Linked DNA regions of Homo sapiens. The protein of the gene in region 4 purifies or fractionates together with the protein of the main gene of each other region. This does not show direct contact. Each region holds a gene or a part of one and is shown on either strand. Other genes may lie near its edges. The genes, in order: PLPBP, ISOC1, FAM81A, PRCP, NPEPPS, CARNMT1 and C1QTNF9.

Region 1 (3,500 bases), on a different chromosome or scaffold from region 4:
CACAGTTAAATCTCAGTTCCTCTGAGAAGACAAATGTGACAGTTTTACTAGATACAAATTCAAATGTCAGACCATCCCTGGCTAATCAGCAAAGGTAAATAAGGGAAAAGCTGACATACATGATCAGGCAGCATATACATCCATAAGCTTCAAGAAGCTGGTAACGGACAGATTCCTAGTAAAAGGCTTGATCTATGTCTCAGTTCAAACTGAGAGAAACAGGTCAGGATGACAATGAAGAAAGGATGACCAGTGGAAGCCAAGATGCTTCCCTAGCATATCACCACAATTCTTCAACTTTCTGGGATGAGGGTATTCTTATCCAACAAGGACATCACCATGACCCTAACACTGGCCAGGTGTGGTGGCTCACACGTGTAATACCAGGTGGGTGGATCACCTGAGGTCAGGAGTTTGACACCAGCCTGGCCAACATGGTGAAACCCCATCTCTACTAAAAAACTGCAGCAATCCACAGGACAGATTATCACAGTTTACATAACTATTCCTCGTTAATGGATATTAGATTGTTTCTTATTTTTTATTACAAAAACAAAGCTTGGATATAGAACTTGGTGCTATGTACAAGTATTTCAGATGGGCAGTTTGCAAATATTTTCTCCCATTCTGAGTTGTCTCTTCACTTTGTTGTTTCCTTTGCTCTGCAAGAGCTTGTTTTCTTTTGGAGACAGAGTCTCGCTCTGTCGCCCAGGCTAGAGTGCAGTGGCACAATCTTGGCTCACTGCAACCTCTGCCTCCTGGGTTCAAGCTATTCTTCTGCCTCAGCCTCCCAAGTAGCTGAGATTACAGGCACCCACCACTACACCTCACTAATTTTTGTATTGTTGGTAGAGATGGGGTTTTGCCATGTTGGCCAGGCTGTTCTTGAACTCCTTACCTCGTGATCTGCTGGCCTTGGCCTCCCAAAGTGCTGGGATTACAGGCGTGAGCCACTGTGCCCAGCCTGCAAGAGCTTTTTAACTTGATGTGATCCCATTTGTCCATTTTTGCTTTGGTTGCCTGTGCTTTTGGAGTATTTACTCAAGCAATCTTTGTCAAGGTCAGGTGCAGTGGCTCACACCTGTAATCCCCACACTTTGGGAGGCTGAGGAGGGCAGATCACTTGAGGCCAGGAGTTCAAGACCAGCCTGTCCAACACAGTGAAACCCTGTCTCTACCAAAAAATAAAAAAATTAGCCAGAGATGGCTAGGCATTGTGGCTCACGCCTGTAATCCCAGCACTTGGGGAGGCCGAGGTGGTCGAATCACTTGAGGCCAGGAGTTTGAGATCCATTTGGCCAACATGGTGAAACCCTGTCTCTATTAAAAATACAAAAAAAATTAGCCAGGCCTGGTGGCACATGCCTGTAATCCCAGCTACTCGGGAGGCTGAGGTAGGAGAATTCCTTCAATCTGGGAGGCAGAGGTTGCAGTGAGCCGGGATCACGCCACTGCACTCCAGCCTGGGTGACAGAGCAAGACTAGAAAGACTAAAAAAGAAAGAAATATACATATATGTATTTGGCTTCAAGTGATCCTCCCACCTTGGCCTCCCAAAGTGTTGGGATTACTGGTGTGAGTCACTGCATCTGGCCTCAAGAAGCCTTTATGGAAATGAATTGAGCTGTGAGGTTGAATGAGTATAACGGATCATCCAGAAGGGAAAATGGCACTAAAACAACAGTTCTGTTAGGTTTTCCTGCCCCTTCTATGCCTGCTGGCTCCTTCCCCGCTCCCTCCTCCCATCACCTTTACATATTTCTAACATGGCTAGGTGCAGTGGCTCACACCTGCGATCCCAGCACCTTGGGAGGCTGAGGTGGGCGGATCACCTGAGGTCAGGAATTGGAGACCAGCCTGGCCAACATGGTGAAACCCCGTCTTTACCAAAAATACAAAAATTAGCCAGCATGGTGGGGCGTGCCTGTAATCCCAGCTACTTGGGAGGCTGAGGCAGGAGAATCGCTTGAACCCAGGAGATGGAGGTTGCAGTGAGCCGAGATCATGCCACTGCATTCCAGTCTGGGTGCAGAGTGAGACCCTGTCTCAAAACAAACAAACAAACAAACAAAATTTGTCCAGACTAATGTCTTGGAGAGTTTCCCCAATGTTTTCTTTTAGTAGTTTCAGGTCTTGGATTTAGATTTAAGTCTTTAATCTATTTTGATTTGATTTTTGTACATGGTGAGAGATAGGAGTCTAGTTTTATTCTTCTGCATATGGATATCTAGTTTTCCCAGCAGCACTTATTGAAGAGATTGTCCTTTTCCCAATGTATGTTCTTGGCACCTCTGTTAAAAATAAATTCTCTGTAGATGTACAAATTTATTTCTGAGTTCTCTATTCTGTTCCATTGGTCTATGTGTCTGTTTTTATGCTAGTTTTGGTTACTATAGCTCTACAGTATAATTTGAAGTCAGGTAATGTGATTCCTCCAGCTTTGTTTTTTGCTCAGGATGGCTTTGGCTATTATGGGTCTTTTGTGGTTCCATATAAATTTCAGGACTGTGTTTTTCTATTTCTGTGAAGAATGTCACTAGTATTCTGATAGGGACTGCACTGGATCTGTAGATTGCTTTGGGCAATAAGGACATTTTGACAATACTGATTTTTCCAATTCATGAGCATGGAATATCTTTCCATTTTTTCATGTCCTCTTCAAATTCTTGCATCAGTGTTTTACAGTTTTCATTGCAGAAATCTTTCACTTCTTTGGTGAAGTTTATTCTTAGGTATTTCATTTGTAGCTATTGTAAATGGGATTACTTTCCTGATTTCTTTTCCAGATCATTCACTGTTGGCATATAGAAATGCTACTGATTTTTGTATATTTATTTTGTATCCTGCAATGTTACTGAAGTTGTTTTTCAGTTATAATAGTTTTTTGGTGGAATCTTTATGTTTTTCCAAGACTCTACGGTTTTAGAATCTCCTGGTAAGACGAAGGAGTACTCATTTACTCACTCCCTCAAAACACTGGATCTTAGCAGTCTTTTTGATTTTTTACAAATCTGATTAGTGATTTTGTATTTCTCTGAGGATGAATATTTTTCATTTGATTACTGGCCTTTTGTATTTTTACCCCTTATAAATTGCCCCAGTTTTTGCCTATTTTTTTTCCCTATAAACAAAAAGATTTGTAGCTCTTTATGTATTCTGGATATGAATCTCTTCCCTCTTCAAAAATATTATTTTTCTTCCACTCTGTGCCTCCCTTTTGCTTTGACATGCAGAAAGCTTTAATTTTTGTGTGATCAAATCTGCTAGTTGTTCTTTTAAAATTTATTATTATTAATATTATTATTATTATTAGATAGGGTCTCCTCTGTCATCCAGGCTGGAGTGCAGTGGCACAATCACAGCTCACTGCAGGCTTAACCTTTTGGACTCAGGTGATCGTCCTACCTCAGCCTCCCAGGTAGCTGGGACCACAGACACACACCACTACGCCCAGCTAATTTTTTGTATTTTTAGTGGAGACAGGGTTTTGCCATGTTACC
Region 2 (3,500 bases), on a different chromosome or scaffold from region 4:
ATCAGAGGAAAGAAGGGATGAGTACAGGGCCACAGGGTGGTGGGAAGCAGGCAGGTAGCTGGCCACAGCAGGTGTTTTAGGGTCCTTATTGGCTCTCCCTTCTCTGTTATTGCTGAAGCAGAATCCTATACTGAGATTACAAATAGAAATTATTTATTTTGTTTAGCTATTTTCAAGTCCATTAGGCTATTAGATTATCTGGTAGTTAGGTACTAAGTATTGCTGCTTCTTCCAATCTCAACAAAGACCTTTAATCCATTTCTTTTTTTTTTTTTTGAGAGATGGAGTCTTGCTTTGTCGCCCAGGCTGGAAGTGCAGTGGCACAATCTTGGCTCATCTGCAACCTCCACTTCCTGGGTTCAAGCAGTTCTCCCTGTCTCAGCCTCCCGAGTAGCTGGGATTGTAGGTGCCTGCCACTGCACCCGGCTAATTTTTGTATTTTTAGTAGAGATGGGGTTTTGCCATGTTGGCCAGGCTGGTCTCGAACTCCTGACCTCAGGTGATTTACTTGCCTCGGCCTCCCAAGGTGCTGGGATTACAGGTGTGAACCACTGTGCCCGGTCAGACCTTTAATCTATTCTTATAGTCATGAGTTAATCAATTCCTACTTTTCAGGTTTTCCTGGTAACCTGAGTTTAAATACTTCATTGTCAGGTCCTCACCACCTCAGCCAGCAGCTCTTTCAGCCACTGTGGATAAACCTTTATTGTAATGCTGAGGTCCAGAACTTTGGAAATAAAAAATGAAAAACACAAAACAAACTTCCTTGCTTGTAAAAAAGGACTTTTTTCAAGGACTTTTCTCCTACATTCATATTTTCTTAGATATGTCTTTGTTATGGCAACTTAATGACAAAATTTTGATTGGCAATTCTGTCTTTGCACAAGACTCAAGATTAAAAACAATTCCCATCTGAACCATTCTTTTTAGAGGCAATCTGTAATCTCTCGGATTAGGAATCCACACAATGTGGGGATAATGTGGGTTTGAAGGCAGGTTCTGGTGTTTTGTAAATTTGTGACTTTGAGCAAGTTGTGTAATCTCTATGCCTCAGATTTCTCATTGGTGAAATGGAAATGATAATAGCAACAAGATCATAGGATTTTTGTGAGAATGGAATGAGATAATATATTGATAGCAGTTAGGACAGTGCATGACATAGTAAATACTCAGATGTTAGCTGCTGCTTTTTTTGTTGTTACTGATTGTTGTCTTCACGTGGTTAGTCACCAGAAATGTGTAAGTATATAACCTCTAAGACCCAGAAGGGACTAGTTCTTGGAAGTTCTGAGAAGGGAGGGAAAGAATCTGTTGTCTGGGGTGGATTTGGAAGGGCCTGGAGCACCAACATTGCCTGGGGTTAAAGTGTTGAGGTTGAAAGGGAAAACCGATCATAGATAAGTCAGGTGGTGATTGATAGGGAACACCTGCCATATTGCAGATTTTTTTCCTTTTAGTCTTGATTTGATACGGAGGCGATATACCTTGTTCCTAAATTTGAGGAAGGGGGCAATGTTAAGTGTTCTGGTTTGTTTCCATAAGTGTGAAAGTTAAAATACCATTGTGGTCCTCTCCCCTTCCTCTCTATTCCTGTAGAACATAACTACTGAAGATAATTCCCAAGACTAGCTATATTGCCTGTTAAGATTATTTTAAGATTCATAGTTTGCATTATTGAAACTTCACTGTACCAGGGTCTGTGGCATGTGCTTTATTCAAGAAATGTTTTCTGGGTATTTGTCATCTGAAAGACATTACTCCTTTCAATTAACAATTGTAGAGTGCATGAAGAATAAGAGAATAAAATCCTCTCTTGACCTTGATGTCCTTGTACTTCCGGGGAGTTTTAGTGTTGCTTGGAAATCTAATGGGTTTAGTCTTTTTCCCCCCTCTCTGAGGCTTTCATGACTTAGTGCACATGCATTTTTTAGGTTTGTGGGTCAGAGCAATCCTTCTTTTCCTTTGGCCTAGTTGGATTAGTTTTGCAAGTGTAAGGGGAGAACTTCAGAAGTCTAATGCACATGTACCTGTGTGCATTAAATGGCTGGAGTTTTAACTGCCCCTTTTTAAGCCAGGAGAGAAAGTGGACTTGGGACCAGCATTGTCAGGATGGTGGGCAGGGACTTGCTAGGTATGTCTGGAAAGCTCCTGCTGTTCTTTCTCTGCTCAGGCACGTTCTTTGGTTGGGAAAGGGCAGGCATTGTGGGAATGGCTAAGAGCCAGATTGAAAACCATTGCATTTGCTAAGCTACACCTTTCCCTAACACAGGTTCCTGGCTAGATGATTTTAAAACCCAGTCAGTGTTGGCCACATTTCAATCTTGAAGCAAAGTGATAGTGTATGGGTGTCACTTTCCTAAAATGTATTTCTGTGATGTACACTTCCCACTCTGCCCCTGCTATGGCCACCTGAGTCTCAGCATCACTGAGGCTTGTTAGGCTCAGGTCAGTAGAGCACTAGGGAGTGCTGGGCATTGTAGACAGGCTTCTTGTAGCGTCACCAGATTCCTTCCTTAGACCTGGGAACAGATTTATCTTTCCTGTCTCACTAAGGAACTGGGGAGATTATCGAGAACTAACCTTTATTGGCACATTGGAGTATACAGTGTAAAGCACTCTCACAGACATTGAAAGCCTGTGATTTAGTCCTTGATTCAGACTGAATCATTGCAAGTCCATTGATTCAACAGTGAGCAGTAAGGAAGGCAGGGCTGAGCAGGGCAGGCAGCTGGTGATGGGGAGAGCTGGACATGAATGACTTGACATTCAGTGCTGTTTTCACACAACTGGACTGCAGCTTATCATATTTATTATCTGCCTTTCTGTCTGAAGCAAGCACACGATCTTTTCATATTTTTGAATGGTTTTGATATGATTAATCAGCTGACTATAAAGCAAGGAGGAGGAAATTAGGGCTTCCAGAAGTCTTAAAAAAATACTCAGAGATAACTCACCCCTGGTGTGTGTCTGAGCTTATGGCCTTACTCCAGGCCCCCAACCCCCCCATAAATAGCTGCTGTTTTTGTTTTGTTTTATTTTGTTTTTTTTAAAAAATTGCTGCAAAGTTCTGGTTAGCTGCTCTGCACCCTTTTCTGTACTGGTCATTAAGGTCCAAGCTTGCTTTCTGACAAGTAGGTTATGGCTTATACTCCCTTATACTTCATTACGGATAAAAATAAAGAGTCTGCCAGTGGAAAGGTTCAGTCTGCTGATGTACAGCCATTGAAGGAAGACTGACTTACACTCTGCAAGGATATTTTGGCTATGCAAGGGCTTCCTGGGTTTTTGCCTCTGACTTACCTAGGAATTGTTTCCAACCACTTCCTCTTTCATGCTTTTTACATATATGCTTTTTGTGATAACAGTTTGTGTCTTTTTTTTCCCTGGGATTTCTGATAACACATAAATCCAGAGAATGAATCTGTGCTATAGAATTCTTCTATTTTCCTCCTTTCCTCTCTCTACCCTTTACCCCCGACTTTCTGTTCTTTGCTCTCTTC
Region 3 (3,500 bases), on a different chromosome or scaffold from region 4:
TGCCTGGCCCCAGAGTTTATTTTTTCTTACTTCTTTCCATTCTTTTCTTCTTGCTTTACCTACCTGTCCCTTCCCCCAACTTCCCCCAATTTTAAAACTTTATAAAGTGGAGATTGTTTAATATATTGTTTAATATAGTGGAATCACTGCACAATCAAAACAGCATGAAACCCAGACCTGTGTGATAAGGTTGTAGACAGACCTGTGGTATCAGTGATCAGATTTATAAACGTACAGGAGATGATAACCTCAGGCAGGTAAGCCAGAATTAACAACGGGAAGATCTGGAAACAATGCTTGAGATGTTATTTAATCCTGTGACTTATTCATTATCAATCTTTATTCATCTGCAATATAGATTCCACGTTCTGGCAAAGAATCGTGATGCTAACAAACCAAGCGACCTGCCAGATATGCAGATCCTCACCACATTCATAAAGGGCACCCATTCTGAATAATGTGTCTTGTGAGCTCATGCCTTATGAAATTTCTTGTCATAGAGCTGCATAGCGCTTAGGAGGGTTTGCTTCTGAAAAGCCATCTCCGATAATCAGTGGTGTGGCTTGACTTTTGTGGCTCTGTTCAGGTAGATGAAATGGCCTTCAGAGAAGGGGATGCCAAAGTCCCCATTCTTTCAGATACTTATTGAGTGTCTAATATTTGGGATTCAGTCTTGGTAAATAATTATACTTTTTAACTAAAGTATATTGTCTTATATCTTTATTGCTGCAGTTTCTGATCTGGAAGTGCTGGGCATTCACTCATTCATTAACAAACATATATGGATACTTCTAGGTCAGCCCTGTGTTTATTAAGATTTGAAACATGCCTGTAAGGAGCGTGTCATTTAGTAGGGGAGCTAGACTATTAAACAACTAAAAAGAATAGAGCACAATAAATAGTATACAAACAGATAAAGAGCTGGAGAAATGCAAGAGAGAGAGCCACTTTATAGACTGGAGGGGCTAGTGGGGCTTTAAAGAGTGCATGAATTTTCTAGGCTGGCAGGGGTGGGAAGGGCATTTCCCATAGAGCGCACGCACAGAGGTGTGATGGCAGGAGTGTGCAGGACATATCCAAGGACGGTGGTGGATGGGGTGGCGGGGGCGGGGGTTCCCGGTGACTGGAGCAGGTGATTGTGGTAGGGAGTGGCCAAATATGAGGGCGGAAGAACAGGTTAGGCAGGCCAGAGCATGTTCAGAAGAAAGGAAGTAGAGGTTGGAGTGTTGAAGAGAAGCTGTGGAACAATCTCTCCATCCCCTATTTTGGGAAAGCCTACTCATTCTCATCAGTTCTTCCTGACCTAGCTGCTACCCAGGAAAAATCGACCCCTCTCCTGTTTTCCCTCCCCATGTGCTTTTTTTCACAGGGTTAGCCACTTAACCCATTGTTTTTGTTTGTTTGTATTTGAGACAGAGTCTCCTCTATTGCCCAGGCTGGAGTGCAGTGGCGCTATCATGGCTCACTGTAGCCTCAGCCTCCCTGGGCTCAGGTGATCCTCCTGAGTAGCCTCCAGAGTAGCTTGGACTACAGGTGTGCATCAATACGCCTGGCTAATTTTTGTATTTTTTGTAGAGATGGGATTTCGCCATGTTGCCCAGCTGGCCTCGAAATTCTGGGCTTGAACTCCTGGGCTCAAGCAATCCTCCAACTTTGGCCTCCCAAAGTGCTGGGATTACAGGCATGAGCCACAACCCATTGTTTTCTGGTTGGTTTAGATGACTTCTGCTGAGGGAAGGGATTTTAGTTTTTCCTAGTTAGGTTACTTAATTACCTAATAGATGCCAAATACATGTTTCTTAAGTTAGGCTATTCTGTAGATTAATATCTCAACTGAGATGTCTTACAACTTTAAAACTGTAAAGATTCTATGATTCTAAATAACAGCATTTCCCACACTGGCCTGATTTTATTTACGGTAGTCCCCCCTTATCGATGGTTTCACTTTCCACATTATCCAAGGTCAACCATGGTCAAAAATATTAAATAAAAAATTCTAGAAATAAACAATTCATAAGTTTTAAATTGTGTGTTGTTCTGAAATAGTGTGATGAAATCTTGTGCGATCCTGCTCCCTCCTGCCCAGAACGGGAATCATCCTCTTGTCCAGCATATCCACACCATGTATACCTGGCCCTGTGAGTCACTTAATAGCCATCTCTGTTATCAGATTGACTGTTGGGGTATTGCAGTGCTTGTGACCAAGTAACCCTTATTTTACTTCATAATAGCCCCAAAGTGCAAGAGCACTGTGCCTAATTTATGAATTAAACTTAATCATGAGTATGTATGTGTAGAAAAGAATAGTATATATAGGCTTCGGTTTCAGGCATCCACTGGGGGTCTTGGAATGTACCCCTGACAGATGAGGGAGGGCTACTGTAGTCTATATGGCAGAAATGCTTCTCTTTGACACTGAAGAACTCTTTGGGCACCATAGCTTGTTTGGCATGAATGACTTTTTTTTCCTTAAATGTAATTTGTTTAAAGTTCTTTGTCTAAGAAAATGAAATGTGCACATTTTGAAACTCCAAAAATAAAACACTAGAGAGATGACGCCAAAACAGTGATTTCAATCAGAAATGCTTTCTGAATCCAGCATCTAAATGAGAATTAATTATGGAATCAGATCATAGTTAGTAGGCATTCATTATTTTAAGGCAATTGATAGCAGTATTGAGGAACCTAAATAATAAAGTATTTTAAACATCCTCTAGTGTTTTTCACATTTCTAATGAGTTGTGGGGACCAAATGTTCCTTATATGCAAGATGAAATATGAATGATTGTATCTTATTATAAAGTTTTCAAGTTCTAATGAGGAATATCTTTCTCACTCCCTTGGTGGATAGATATCTTCCCACAAATCAGATCACATTGATCATGTGCTGTTTTATTTGAGATTAATTTAGAAATAAGTGCTCTTCATTTACCATGGAATTAGTAGTAAAAGTTTTCTGAGATCAAATTTACTGAGGTAGTTTCCTGCAAAATTCTACAGAGAAGTATAAGATTGGATAAGCCTATTAAACACTCTAGTTTCTGTTAAAAGTGGTTTCTCAAGCTTGAGATGCAGATTTGGAGTGAGGAAACTTCAGGAAACTCCATTGTACAGTCCCTGTTGGTCTGTCTTGCAAGGCTTAGCAATATTAATTTCAGAAGAGCTTTGATTTTGCTTGATTGCTTTTCTTCTTATTTGGAAACATATGCTGTTTATTTCATGTATAAGATACAAAACATTTAATAATATAACTTATCAGTGTTTCAACATAATTTATGATCCACTTAGCAACTTAATAATAAGCTTTTGAGGTTAAGTTCTAGATATAAACTGTTAAATAATTTAGTGCTTATTTTTTCAACAGATGTGAATTATTAAAAAGAAAATGGCCCAACGGAGCACTGTATTTCCTTCTCGTGTCACCAAGGAAAGGTATAATATATGGAAAATATGCATCTAAGGTATACTTTTCCTTTCCACTCATCCCATGGGGGCTGCTA
Region 4 (2,498 bases):
TCTAGTTCCCCATGATTCCTGGTAACCCAAGTCCTGGAGCTGATCTGGCAGTTTCAAAACATTTCTTTTCCTTAAGCTGGTTTTGTGGGCTTTTGTTGCTTGAATCCAAACAAAAATAAAACTGTACCAGTAAAATGAAGCAAACAAAATTTGCCAAAAAGGAGCCCCAGTTCTGCCCCAGTTTTGCCAAAAAGGAGCTGTGAGGCCGTAGATAAGTTCCTTCTCTCTAAGCTACAATTCTATCCCTTACAAAATGATGCAGTTGAACTGGATATCTCAGGGGCCTTCACCCTCTACTATGCTGGCTTAGACACTGGCTCCTCTGGATAACCTCTTGGCGCTACAGATTCCTTATGAAGGTTCTCCTAAGTTACTTTAGTTCTACCCATTGACTCCAGGCAGTTAAAGTAACAAAAACAGAAAATAAAAAGCACCCAATTCTTTCTAAGCTCTTGGGAGCTGAAAAAAATAAAAATAGAAAGCACTCAAGTCTCCATGTCTCTCTTTCCCTGTCAGTAAAAAGTGCAGTTTTATTAGAGGGATGCTTTAAATAATAAGGCTTATCTGACACTCCAATTCTTTTTCATGTTAAAATTAAACCTTAGCATATTATAATTATACTCACTTCAATTAAGGCTGCTATCTATATTCCTAAAATGCATACAGTAATAGGATACAATTATGCTTGCCAAAAAATTCTATTTTTTGCAGTTTGTTTCTTCAGAATAATGTAACTCATCCAAATAATCAACATCAAATAAAATGGCAAAGTATTTTAAAGATTCTACACAAGGGAAAAACCCTAAAATCGTAAAATAAATTGTAAGAATATCCTCTATTGAGCCCATAAACCCTGCATTATTTAATTTCTTAGTTGACAAAGAATAAAAACTAGTATTGTTTTGGCCCTTAAATTCCCACCCAAATCGATTGTTCTGTGATGCTGAAACAAAATAGTTACCAAATGCTTTGATAGACAACTCATTACAATGAGAACTGAAGGCTCCCAAAATAAGACAAAGATTTTCCTGTATCTCCCAGATGCCAGGGAAAGTAAAGGAAATATTTCAGCTTTCCATCCCAAGAATGAACTCTATATATGCCCTTAAAAAAAAAAAATGCCATAAAAATGATCAAGCTCAAGGTACAGTTTTTTAAAAGCAGAAAATGTTCCCAAGGCAGGGTGAAGAAAAAAAAATTATTGAGAGAAAATGAAAAGAAACAAGGAGGAAGAAATCTTTCAACAGAGTAGAAACTGTTAGTCTCTCTCTCTCTGTCTCTCTGTGTCCCTGAAAGGTTTTGATCCAACCCTATTTGTTATCCTAGAAAAGCTCTCTGAAGAAAGGTCTCAGTGTAAGAACTGCTTGAAAGAAGCCAACCCCTTGGAAATAGGAATGGCTTGGCCATTTATTAATGTCAAATATGCTGCCTGCATGAATTAGTCAGCTTGTCTTTTGGAAGTCATACAGAAAAGTTCTTGTGCACCTGCCTGTTAGTGTCTAACACTTCTGGTTTTAATGACAGCAGTAACAACTATCAGAAAATAAAATTTTAAAAATTTAAAAGCTGAATATTACTATATTCTACTTTTGGAATAGCTGATTCATCAATTTTTAAAGGCTTCTTACTGAAATATAATTAGTGACTACAGCATAAAGCTTGCTCAGATTTAAAAAGACAAAACAGAGTCATTTTCCTAAACTGGCAGAATTCAAACAAATTAAAACTGACCTTAGAAACAAAGAGAAATGGAGCAGAAAAAGGCCAGATTTCTTACTGGCAGTACCACAGTGGCCAACATCCCAGAACTAAGAAAAGCTGCCAAGTGGAAGAGAAAAAATTAAAGGACTTTCCAAAAACAGCTAAGCCCAGTGCACACAGCATTTCCATCAGCCGGAGTTGAAGTGAGCTTCAGAAGCAACACACAGGTATAAGGTCCAGCTGTATTATTTATTTACAGCACAGTTCAAAGTCATTAAATCCGGTACAAAAGAAATGGCTCTCACTTCCTGGATTGGCACCAGACATCCTACCAGCTGCAATTACATCATTTTTTATCTATCTTCTGCTTTTACTTTGTGTAGGGTAGGGATGGGGACTTACAAATGGGCCAAAGACACTTCAACCTCAAAACCAAAGAGAAATCTCTGCTTGCAGAGATACAAAGAAAGTAACTCTCCCTCTTATGAAAAGCAACCAGGAACTCTACTCCAGTTATGAGGGCCACTGATGGTGTGGGAGAGCTATCAAGAAGATTCTTCCTAGACGTGGTGCAAAGACAGTGAGAACCCAGGAAATCACATTCATGGGACACTTGCTCTTACCGTCATCACCCTCTATTCTATCTCAACTTTGGCCCCATCAAATCTAATGATAAACAAAAGAAGGTAATTACATGTAGAAAATCAAAGTGAATGGGAATGTGGTGGTGTGAACATAAAAGAAGAAATTGAAAACAATCAAAAGTTTCTCAGTGCTGCTTTCCCGCACTGTCATAG
Region 5 (3,500 bases), on a different chromosome or scaffold from region 4:
TGTTGTTAAGCAACACATGACTGTATTCCCTTTATTTTTTATTTTTTTCAGACAGGATCTTGTTCTGTTGCCCAGGCTGGAGTGCAGTGGTGCCATGATTGCTCACTGTAACCTCAAACTCCTGGGCTCAAGTGACCCTTCCCACTTCAGCCTCCTGAGTAGCTGGGACTACAGGCACATACCACCACACCCGGCTAATATTTTTGTATTTTTTGTAGAGGTGGGGTCTCGCTATGTTGCAAGCTGGTCTTGAACTGGGCTCAATCAGTCCGCACATCCTGGCCTCCCAAAGTGCTAGGATTACAGGCGTGAGCCACCACACCCGGCCCAGACTCTTTAAGTTGGCAAAATACTCAGTTATGGAAAGCAGAATGCTGGAGGATGACCAAAGGGATAACGAGTCCTGATTCATGTTGACCCTATGACTTACTGCAGGTTGAGTATCCCTTATCCAAAATGCTTGGGACCAGAAATGTTTTGAATTTCATATTTCTTTTGGATTTTGGAATATTTGCATTATACTTACTAGCTGAGCATCTATAATTGGAATATCCAAAATCTAAAATGTTCCAATGAGCATTTCCTTTGAGCATCATGTTGGCACTCAAAAAGTTTCAGATTTTGGGTGGGAATTGAACAATGAGAACACTTGAACACAGGGCGGGGAACATCACACACCAGGGCCTGTCATGGGGTAGGGGGCTGGGGGAGGGATAGCATTAGGAGAAATACCTAATGTAAATGACGAGTTAATGGGTGCAGCAAACCAACATGGCCCGCACATGTATACTGACGTAACAAACCTGCACATTGTGCACATGCACCCTAGAACTTTAATTAAAAAAAAGAAAGAAAGGAAAGAAAAAGTTTCAGATTCTGGAGCATTTCAAATTTCAGATTTTGAGATTAGAGATATTCAACCTGAACACAGCTTCAAATAAGGCTAATTTATTTATTACATGGATCCTGACCTTAAGTATTCAGAACAAAAATAAAATGTCCCAGCCTGGATAGAGTGACAATACTTTCTCTCCATTTCTATCTCAAGCTATTAGAGATTACCTGTGGCAGCATTCTTTTGTTGGAACTTGGTTAAATACATGTTCATTCCTTTCTTAAAGTCCTGAGAAAACACAATTTTTAAAATCCAGGGAAGTCAGATCTCAGAATTTATAGTATATTTGTATATCAGTAATCAAAAACAAATTTACTCAAATACTCAAGTATCAGATACACTGAAACACATATATCCTTCTGATGCCTACTGCCTTTTATTTAATAATGCGTACTCTATGCCTTCTATTCTTGCTCTTAAGTTTTGTAACAGCCTCCCATTTCCACTCCCAAACACACCTGCACATCACTCATCTAAGAGACCAGAGTAGTCAACTTCAAATAATTGAATTCTCATTCTTTTTGGTCATTAAAAAAAAATGACAAGCCAGAAACTATTTGGGAACTTAATCCAAATAAAGTGAGACTTTTTTTCATGCAAAACTCTTATGATTTCACCATAAAAGAATGAAATATTTAAAGTTTTTTTTTACCTTATCCCCAATGTAGTCATGCAGCATTCGGATGACAGATGCACCTTTGCTATATGATATAGCATCAAATATCTCATCAACCTCAGATGGATGGCCCACACTGACCTGGCAGACAGTGTGATTCAGGGTTATGACAGGAAGCAGATAGCCTGTAATACTGAATTACATAAAACGCTTTCTAGGAAAACCCTTCTAACTTACATTTTTCTGCCTTTAACTCACTCATAATGTATAACGATGGTCCTCAAAAAAATGTAGTAACTAATAATAATAAAGTTGAATAGAACATGATTCCTGTCATCCCTTAGAGCCTGGGTTCCAGTCCTGGCTTTGTTCTGCTGGGAAAGAAGCCACTATGGTTCTGTTTATTTTTGGGGTAGTTGCAGAGGAGTGATGAGGAAGATATGGAGGTGAAGAACATTAGATTTCTTGCACTAATTGTAATGAATTACAATTATATGGGAGCCTAATTAAATATGTTGAAGTAGCATTATAACTCTAGTTCTTTAGATACAAAATTTATATATATAAACTGAAGTAGGGATAGGCTAAGTCAAGAGAATTAAAGTATTCACAAAACAGACCCTGACAATAAAATATGTCCAGAATTTTCCTTGACATAAACAATGGAACCATAGTGTTACCCAATAGGTATGACTTCTCCCATACTATTCTTTTTCTTTTTTTTTGGCAGAGTTTTTTGCTCTTGTTGCCCAGGCTGGAGTGCAATGGCACGATCTCGGCTCACCGCAACCTCTGCCTCCCAGGTTCAAGTGATTCTCCTGCCTCAGCCTCCCGAGTAGCTGGGATTACAGGCATGCGCCACCGTGCCCAGCTAATTTTGTATTTTTAGTAAAGACGGGGTTTCTCCATATTGGTCAGGCTGGTCTCAAACTCCCGACCTCAGGTGATCCACCTGCCTCAGCCTCCCAAAATGCTAGGATTACAGGCATAAGCCACTGCGCCTGGCCAGACCAATTTTTTTTTACTGCCTACCTTAAAAAGAAATGTTAATTAGAACTTAGACTTACTAGCTTTTCAAGACTAGAAATATGAACCAGTAAAATCACCCATGCTATTTTCTCTTATTTTCAAAGTCCAAAGTATCTATGTAACAAATTACGTATTTCATTGTAAATGAGAGCAGTCATAGGCTAATGGTTAGAAAGTATGGCTCACTTCAATAGGATGGCTGTTATCTAAGGCGTCAAGCTCCTGGGCACGGGTGTAATCAGCAGAAACAAACTGAGTCCAAATATCATACTCTGGGAAGCAGTGGTCTACACACAGATATTCAATCCAGGATGCAAAACCTTCATTTAACCAAAGATGAGTCCACCATTCCTAAAAACAAAAGATGAAAATACTTAAAGAAAATGAAATGATTGTCATTCTACTAATCTAAAACACTCACATGTCCCTTCCACTATATTCCCAAACTCACAATTTAATGACCTAAAATTCAGTTCAAAACATTTGGCAAAGAACTCACATTTCTGAAAAAGAGAGAAGACTAAAAGAGATGTCAAGAAAGGCCAACTGGTGATATGAGAATTATATCTGAGGGTCATTTTCTTTTCCTTTCTTTTCTTTTTTTTTTTTTTGAGACAAAGTCTTGTTTTGTCACCAGGCTGGAGTGTTCACCAGTAGCTGGGATTACAGACATGTATCACTATGCCTGCCTAATTTTTGTATTTTTAGTAGAGAGGGGGTTTTGCCATGTTGGCCAGGCTGGTCTGGAACTTCTGAACTCAAGTGATCCACCTGCCTCGGCCTCCCAAAGTGCTAAGATTACAGGTGTGAGCCACCATGCCTGGGCTAAAGGATATTTTCAAAACATTGTAAATAACTTCTCCCGCAAACCCAGACAGGGTCTCATTCTGTTGCCCAGGCTGGAGTGGCAGGGGCACCATCGTAGCTTACTGCAGCCTTGAACTCCTGGGCTCAAGCAAT
Region 6 (3,500 bases), on a different chromosome or scaffold from region 4:
CAGCGCCACTGCACCCCAGCCTGGGCAACAGAGTGAAAAATAAAAATAATAAATAAATAAATAATAATCAATAAAATAAAATGTCCTAACAAAAAATAAAGAGAGAGAAGAGACACATATGTATTGAAATTTCTGAAAGCAAATACTCAAACGTAAAGTTGTCAATCAATACGGAGGCAAAGGAGAGGAGGAAAAGGAGCCTCTCTAAAAGATCTTTAAATAAGACTGAATTCCATCCAATAGCTTTCGTTAAATATATACCCCTAAATCAGGGGTTCCTAACCTGGGACAGAGGTTAGGTGGATTAAATTCTATCCATCAAGAGGTCTGTGGATAGAATTCACTGAGTCTCTGAAGGGAATGGGAAAAAATTACATTTTAATTTCAGAAACTGATTTTTTCCCCTCAATTACGGATGCAGGCAACAAACAATAGTTTTAGCAATACCTATGACTTTATCACGAAGAGAAATCACACATATTTTCACTTCACATTAGCTGAAGTTCTCAAAACAGTGTATATCCCATTCAGCATTTTCATAATACATTTCATAATTATACTTGCAGCTAAATTGTATTTAAAGTGATATATGATTTAAAAAAACATGCATCACAAATTTACTTTTTAAATATTTTGATAACTGTATTTCAAAATCAGTTTTCTTTGTAATCATATGCACTTAAATTTATTCACTTAAAATTGTTATTCTGGGCCAGGTGAGGTAGCTCACACCTGTAATCCCAGCACTTTGGGAGGAAGACACAGGCGGATCACTTGAGGTCAGGAGTTCGAGACCAGCCTGGCCAACATGGTGAGCCCATGTCTCTACCAAAAACACAAAAATTAGCCAGGCGTGGTGGTGTAAGCCTGCAGTCCCAGCTACTTCGGAGTCTGAGGCATGAGAATCACTTGAACCCAGGAGGCAGAGGTCGCAGTGAACCAAGACCACACCACTGCACTCCAGCCTGGTCAAGAGAGTGAGACTGTCTCAAAAAAATAAATAAATAAATAAATAAATAAATAAAATAAAAAAAAAATTATTCTGAAAAGCAGACCATGGGCTTCAGACTGAACAATGGTTCCAAGGCATAAAAAAGTTAAGAATCTCTGCTTGCTCAGAGGTACAGATCCCTCACTTGTTTACAACTATGTCATAATGAGGGGAATTAAAAGTTTAGTTTTTTTGCTTTGCCATAAAGCAAATTATAAAAAGATACACATCATTGATAATTTTCGACCTAACCTTATTATTTAATTTCTAAGTAATTTCCCCTAAGCACCAGCATAAAAATTATTCAAAATAACAACTGTAATCTCACACAGAGCATCCAATAACAAATGTTAACACTTACACATGTAAAACATACAGGCACACAGCAACTATAACAATGAAGCGAGACTGTGAAACATTTTATCAAGAAACTCAAGTGTTCATACACTTTAAAAACTTGGTTAAAAATGAGGTACTATTTACCATCTCTCTTTTGGAAAATTTTTTAAAATTTCTTTAATGATTGGCTGGTAACAGGCATCCCTTTCTGCTTTCCCAGTTTCACTCCAGTCTCTCACAAACTGTTTCAGCGTGGATTTTAACTTATCCATGTCAAATGTAGATGCTGGCATAATCTTTCCATTCCCCTGTTTAAAAAACAGACATCAATTAGCTTCTGAGAGAGTAATCCACTTATATTATGGTTAAATAGACATGCTACTAAGGGGCTATATAGGTGGTTTAGTGGATAAATCACTAGCCTCTCACCTCAACTGGGGTTCAAGTGCAGCTTGAGATCCTAAATGAAAAGAGTTTGGTGGTCTCACTGCTACCCTCAAAAGATTAAGGTCCATTAATCATAAAACCACCATATAATTAAGCAGTCTTTACTCAGGAGAGGACCAAACTGAGCTGCTATGGAGACCGAACATCCTCTCTAAGAGAGGGAAGAAAGTCCCTCCAGGTCATTGATGGGGCAGCATGGAGAGGCTCACACTGGAGTGGCCCAACTGTATCCATCCTGTGGATACAAAAAGAGGACTTCAGTTTCTATGTACTGCCAGTCCCTTGAGATTTATAAGTGAAAACAATTTCTTACAATAAAAGATGAACAGCAATAGATACAAGACACTGAAAAAATATGAGTTAAGCAAGGGAAATTAATTTCTAGCTAGTAAAGTTGCTTTTAAAAATTTAAGTCACTAACCCTGTATTCCAAAACAGAACATTATGTCAAAATGCATCAAAATCTCAACAGTTATATTAGTACTTAAAAAAGGAAAACAAGTGAACAGATCCAGTCTCTGGCTATTAAGCCTAATCAAATGACTGAACATTTAAGTTAAAACTTTCTGAGTAGAGCAAATAGCCTGTGCCAGATTATAAAAATGAAATCCAGAAAATAAAAGACCTCAAAATACAGAGGTTGACCCTAAAATAAACAGAAATAGAACAAACTTTCACATACATCTTCTCCATATTCTTTATTTTCAAACATATGTATGCAATCATTCACAATGGTCAGTAGTATTTCTTGATTATGATCAATGCATTTCCGGATCTTGTCCAAGTGAAGAAGAAACTGAGGAAGTAGTTTCTGTTGGTTAGCTGGAAGTGATCGAAACTGTCTTTCTGTTCGGTTCACCCGCTCATGCATACTGGTGCTAAAACATAAAAGGTGTTTTTTAAATTCACAAAAGAATTCTCACCAGAGGCCAATCTTACTTTAAGGTTGTCTTTCTGTACAATTATTTCCTTATTATGCTGGATACTGTCCTATCATTTACAATCTCTTGGCTTTAAAAAGGCATTAACTTATAAAGTTGTAAATGTTTTTACTTTATTACAAGTCCTTCTCTAAGCAACCAAAATACAAATGGTTTATCACTAGTAAAAGTAAACATATGCACCAATTAGAAGAGGAAAAAGAAGATTAATGTACAATTAATTTATTTTTGTGTTTTAAACTTAAAATTTTCAGCAAAACCAGCTTTAGATTTTTCCATCTTTAAGTAGCAAAATAAATACTGCTATGAAATTATAATACACACAAAATATGTCCTGAAATTAACTAAAAGCTAACCAGGTTGATTTTTTTTAAATATCATAGAAGATCTTATATACTACAAATTACTAAGCAAATAAAAAATTAAAATTCTATAGTGTTTTACTTAACAATACCCACAATTTGCATTCCAAAAACGAACCCAAAGGTCACTTTGGGGACTACTTATTCATAAAACCAGAAAATAGAACATAATTTTTACTTATATTTACTTATTATTATTATTTTTGAGAGGGATTTTCGCTCTTGTCGCCCAGGCTGGAATGCAGTGGCACAGTCTCGGCTCACTGCAACCTCTGTCTCCCAGGTTCAAGCCATCCTCCCACCTCAGCCTCCCAAGTAACTGGGACTACAGTCATGTGCCACCACACTTGGCTAATATTTTTGTATTTTTTTGTAGAGATGGGTTTCATCATGTTGCCCAGGCTGGTCTCAAACTCCGGG
Region 7 (3,500 bases), on a different chromosome or scaffold from region 4:
GGCACCCTGGAATCCCTGGGAACCCCGGTCACAATGGTCTGCCTGGAAGAGATGGACGAGACGGAGCGAAGGGTGACAAAGGCGATGCAGGTACTCACCTGACGGCTTCGGCTGCCTTTCAACTTCTCTCTTCATTCCTTTCATCTCATTCACTCATCATCTGTGTGATTTTCCACCTACCCACTCACACCCCATCCATCCATACATACATCAACCCAGCAACACTCACTGGAGCCTGACCCCATTCATCCATCCACCCATCTGCCCAGCAACACTCACGGGGTCTGCTCCATGCCAGACTCTGTGCCAGGTGCTGGTGGAGAGCACAGGGCAAGATCGCCATGACCCCTGCCCTCCTGGGTTCTCTCATCTCTGACACCGCAGAACATTTTCAGTAGTATACGATGTCATGGATCCTCCCATCTCAGGTGACAGGTATGATGGATTTTTGGCAACAAAAGGCTAATAGAGAGATCTGATCACGAATTATTTGGCAGCAAGCACCCAGCTGCAGTGCAGGTGAGAGCTAATACCGCATCATGCCATGAAGCAGGAGATGCGGAGTGACAGATGACACAAAAGGAGACGAGAATCTGAAACCATACAGCTGCTGCTTATGCATCTATATGACCTAGGTTGGGACCCTGTCCCAGGGTCTGGGGATCTGGGGGACAGGATTCAGCCTCTGGGAGGGAGATTTGCCAAAGCTGAGAAGTCCGAGTGGTTTCCATAACAACAACCAATAGACTTGGTTTCCGAATGGGGTACCATTCTTGAGGCCTGGTCTTGACCATAGGGTCACATATCTAAGGCATATGCAGAATGATCCATCTGGGTTAAGGGCACAGTTCAGTGGCATTACAAAAAAATATATCAAAACTTCTATGGACCTTTTTAAAGATAAGTTTGTGTTTCTAACACATCTCAGCTTATGGCATTTGGTGGCCTGATGATGTTTTGAGTGGGCTGGATGAAGCCAAGGGTCACCAGGAAGCAACATTCTTTCTAACCACCATCCTGCACATCTGCTCTGTGAGGTGTCTTCTCCTGGCTCACATCTCCAGCTCATTGACACTGTTCCAGTCCCCAGGTAGCAAACAGCCCAGTCCAAATGAATAGCAAAACCTTACCATTAATGAAATCAGGTCTTCTGCCCTCACACTGGGACCACAGTAGTGTGTGTGTGTGTGTGTGTGTGTGTGTGTATTGTATTTCTGAATATATAAGATTTTCATTTTTTGTTATAAAATTTTACACACAAAAGGAGATAAATAGGTGATAGATAAAAAATAGAGGACAAAGACAAACACTCCTATATTCAATACCAAATTTCTCTACCTCTTCCCTGTTGAATTTCTCTCCTCTTTTCTCACCAGTGTCCATTCTTTCAAGTTTTATATACTTCTTAGAAGCAAATTATGTATCTATTTTTCTACGTAGTTCATAGGTATTATATATAATATATATTACTTCTTAGAAGGATATTCATTCACATTGCTCACACTAAAAATTTACTTCATTTTTATCTTATCTTAAAGTGTATTTTTGTATATGTTTTATACCAAACATATTTTCCATATACTACCTGTGCATAATGTAGAAACATATAAATATCTACTGATTGGGGTCTGTGTTCATGCTTTGTGAGTTGTGGTTGCGTGATCATGAAAGCTCAGAGGCCACCGCTCTAGAGAATGGGAGAAACGAGAGCCAAGCAGGGAAACAAAAAGAGGGAAGGAGAGGAAGACACAGGGGAGCAGCCAGTGGAGGGGAGGGGAGGGGAGGGGAGCGCAGGGAGGGGCAAATGTAGGGATAAGCCCCCTCCATTCAGAGGTCCCACGCTGACCAAGGCCCCACTCAGGAGCGCTGGTGTCCCAGGAGAACAGACATCGTGACAGAAATAAGTCTGCCTGTGTCAGTCCTGTCTCAGGACCTGCAAGCCGGCCCAGCCTGCCCCTGTCGCCCCACAGCCACGTCAGTGGGTCTGAAGTATGGGAGTCTCTGCTGCTTTGTGAGAAGCCAGAGTCTGGGGTGAGCTGTGGCCCAATGAGCACTCTACTGCCATAGCCAGAGCCACCTTCAACCTGCTGACGGATAGCACGCCGACCTGGAGCTCAGGGGGGCCTGTTCTGAGCACAAGGACTTGAGTGTAGTCAGCAGAGCCCCACTCACCTGATGTTCTCTGCCAGCTTGATTGGTGGCATTTCCCCCAGTGTAAGGCACTAGAGGGATCCTTCCAGAACTCTCTCTTCTATCTTGGGATAGTGTCACGTAACCATAGTCATCTGTGTTTTCATAGGAGCCTAGTAAATCTTCCGTTCCACTCTCCTCAAGAGTAATGGAAGAGAAACAGAGTGAGGAAACCTCCTGGCACCTCCAACATTCAGACCACGTCCCAAGTCCTTGTCGCAGGAGAGGAACACAATCGTGACAGTCAGTCCCCATTGCACACACTCCCTCTTCGTCCTGTCTTGCTGTGCGCTCTAGGCACGTCCTAGAGATGGGCGCTTGGGAAGTCACTCAGTTCATTTCTTAGGTCACTTATCCCACGCAGCTCAGCACCCCAGATGCCCGCTCATGCCTGCCTCTCTCCACCTGCGCTTGTGTGGAGGACAGAGTGCCCGTCAGGGCGGGGGTCACCCCCAGACTCTCCAACACACATGGCTGATGGAGACCAATGGCCAGAAAAATCAGAAATGGAATTTCAACTCATGCCTGTTTTCTGCTTTTCCACCTAGGAGAACCAGGACGTCCTGGCAGCCCGGGGAAGGATGGGACGAGTGGAGAGAAGGGAGAACGAGGTTAGTAGTTCCTATTTATGGTGCTCTAATTCTGAGCTGTCGACTATTTAACAATATTACCATGGACAAGTCCTCCATGCTGATTATAATCTTACAATAAAGGCAACACAGTTCTTACTCTCCAGACGGGGGGATTCTGCAGGGATTGGCAGGCTTTGCAGAGGGCTGGGTAGTAAATATTCTCAACTCCGCAGGCCATACAGATCTGTCACCACTACTCAACTTCCCCTTGTAGTGAAAAGAAGCTGTAGATGCTCCATAAATAAGCATGGCTCTGTTCCAGTGACACCATATGTGTGAAGACTGAAATGGGAATTTCCCATGGTTTCCATGTATTGTGGAATATTATTTGTGACCATTTAAACATGCAAACCATGGCCGAGCACCATGGCCCACACCTGTAATCCCAACACTTTGGGAGGCCCAGGTAAGAGAATCGCTTGAACCTAGGAGTTCCAGACCACCCTGGGCAACATAGTAAGACTTTGTCTATACAAATAAAAAAAAAATTAGCTGGGCATTGTGGCACGTGCCTGTAGTCCCAGCTACCCAGGAGGCTGAGGTGGGAGGATCGCTTGAGCCTGGGAGGTTGGGGCTGCCATGAGCCATGATCTCGTCACTGCACTCCAGCCTGGGTAACAGAGTGGGTGACCCTGTCTCAAAGCAACAAAAAAACAAGCAGACAAACAAAACCCAGAA

The links.
Region 1: the proteins of PRCP (region 4) and PLPBP fractionate together in Homo sapiens (co-fractionation; one large-scale study listed by BioGRID). This does not show direct contact.
Region 2: the proteins of PRCP (region 4) and ISOC1 fractionate together in Homo sapiens (co-fractionation; one large-scale study listed by BioGRID). This does not show direct contact.
Region 3: the proteins of PRCP (region 4) and FAM81A purify together in Homo sapiens (co-immunoprecipitation; one large-scale study listed by IntAct). This does not show direct contact.
Region 5: the proteins of PRCP (region 4) and NPEPPS fractionate together in Homo sapiens (co-fractionation; one large-scale study listed by BioGRID). This does not show direct contact.
Region 6: the proteins of PRCP (region 4) and CARNMT1 purify together in Homo sapiens (co-immunoprecipitation; one large-scale study listed by IntAct). This does not show direct contact.
Region 7: the proteins of PRCP (region 4) and C1QTNF9 purify together in Homo sapiens (co-immunoprecipitation; one large-scale study listed by IntAct). This does not show direct contact.

Annotation. Positions count from the first base shown.
Region 1 is NC_000008.11:37,769,145-37,772,644, reverse strand, and holds part of PLPBP (pyridoxal phosphate homeostasis protein), read right to left. Parts: intron 1-3,500. UniProt on the Homo sapiens protein: Pyridoxal 5'-phosphate (PLP)-binding protein, which may be involved in intracellular homeostatic regulation of pyridoxal 5'-phosphate (PLP), the active form of vitamin B6.
Region 2 is NC_000005.10:129,108,249-129,111,748, forward strand, and holds part of ISOC1 (isochorismatase domain-containing protein 1), read left to right. Parts: intron 1-3,500.
Region 3 is NC_000015.10:59,455,186-59,458,685, forward strand, and holds part of FAM81A (protein FAM81A), read left to right. Parts: intron 1-3,364; 5' UTR 3,365-3,385; coding exon of another isoform or gene 3,386-3,432; 5' UTR 3,433-3,441; coding exon 3,442-3,461; intron 3,462-3,500.
Region 4 is NC_000011.10:82,822,436-82,824,933, forward strand, and holds the end of PRCP (lysosomal Pro-X carboxypeptidase isoform 1 preproprotein), read right to left. Parts: coding exon 2,471-2,498; 3' UTR 501-2,470; downstream 1-500. UniProt on the Homo sapiens protein: Cleaves C-terminal amino acids linked to proline in peptides such as angiotensin II, III and des-Arg9-bradykinin. This cleavage occurs at acidic pH, but enzymatic activity is retained with some substrates at neutral pH.
Region 5 is NC_000017.11:47,590,108-47,593,607, reverse strand, and holds part of NPEPPS (puromycin-sensitive aminopeptidase), read right to left. Parts: intron 2,892-3,500; coding exon 2,727-2,891; intron 1,705-2,726; exon of another isoform or gene 1,653-1,704; coding exon 1,548-1,652; intron 1,124-1,547; coding exon 1,063-1,123; intron 1-1,062. UniProt on the Homo sapiens protein: Aminopeptidase with broad substrate specificity for several peptides. Involved in proteolytic events essential for cell growth and viability. May act as regulator of neuropeptide activity.
Region 6 is NC_000009.12:75,014,794-75,018,293, forward strand, and holds part of CARNMT1 (carnosine N-methyltransferase), read right to left. Parts: intron 2,656-3,500; coding exon 2,460-2,655; intron 1,639-2,459; coding exon 1,475-1,638; intron 1-1,474.
Region 7 is NC_000013.11:24,316,080-24,319,579, forward strand, and holds part of C1QTNF9 (complement C1q and tumor necrosis factor-related protein 9A precursor), read left to right. Parts: coding exon 1-90; intron 91-2,738; coding exon 2,739-2,801; intron 2,802-3,500. UniProt on the Homo sapiens protein: Probable adipokine. Activates AMPK, AKT, and p44/42 MAPK signaling pathways.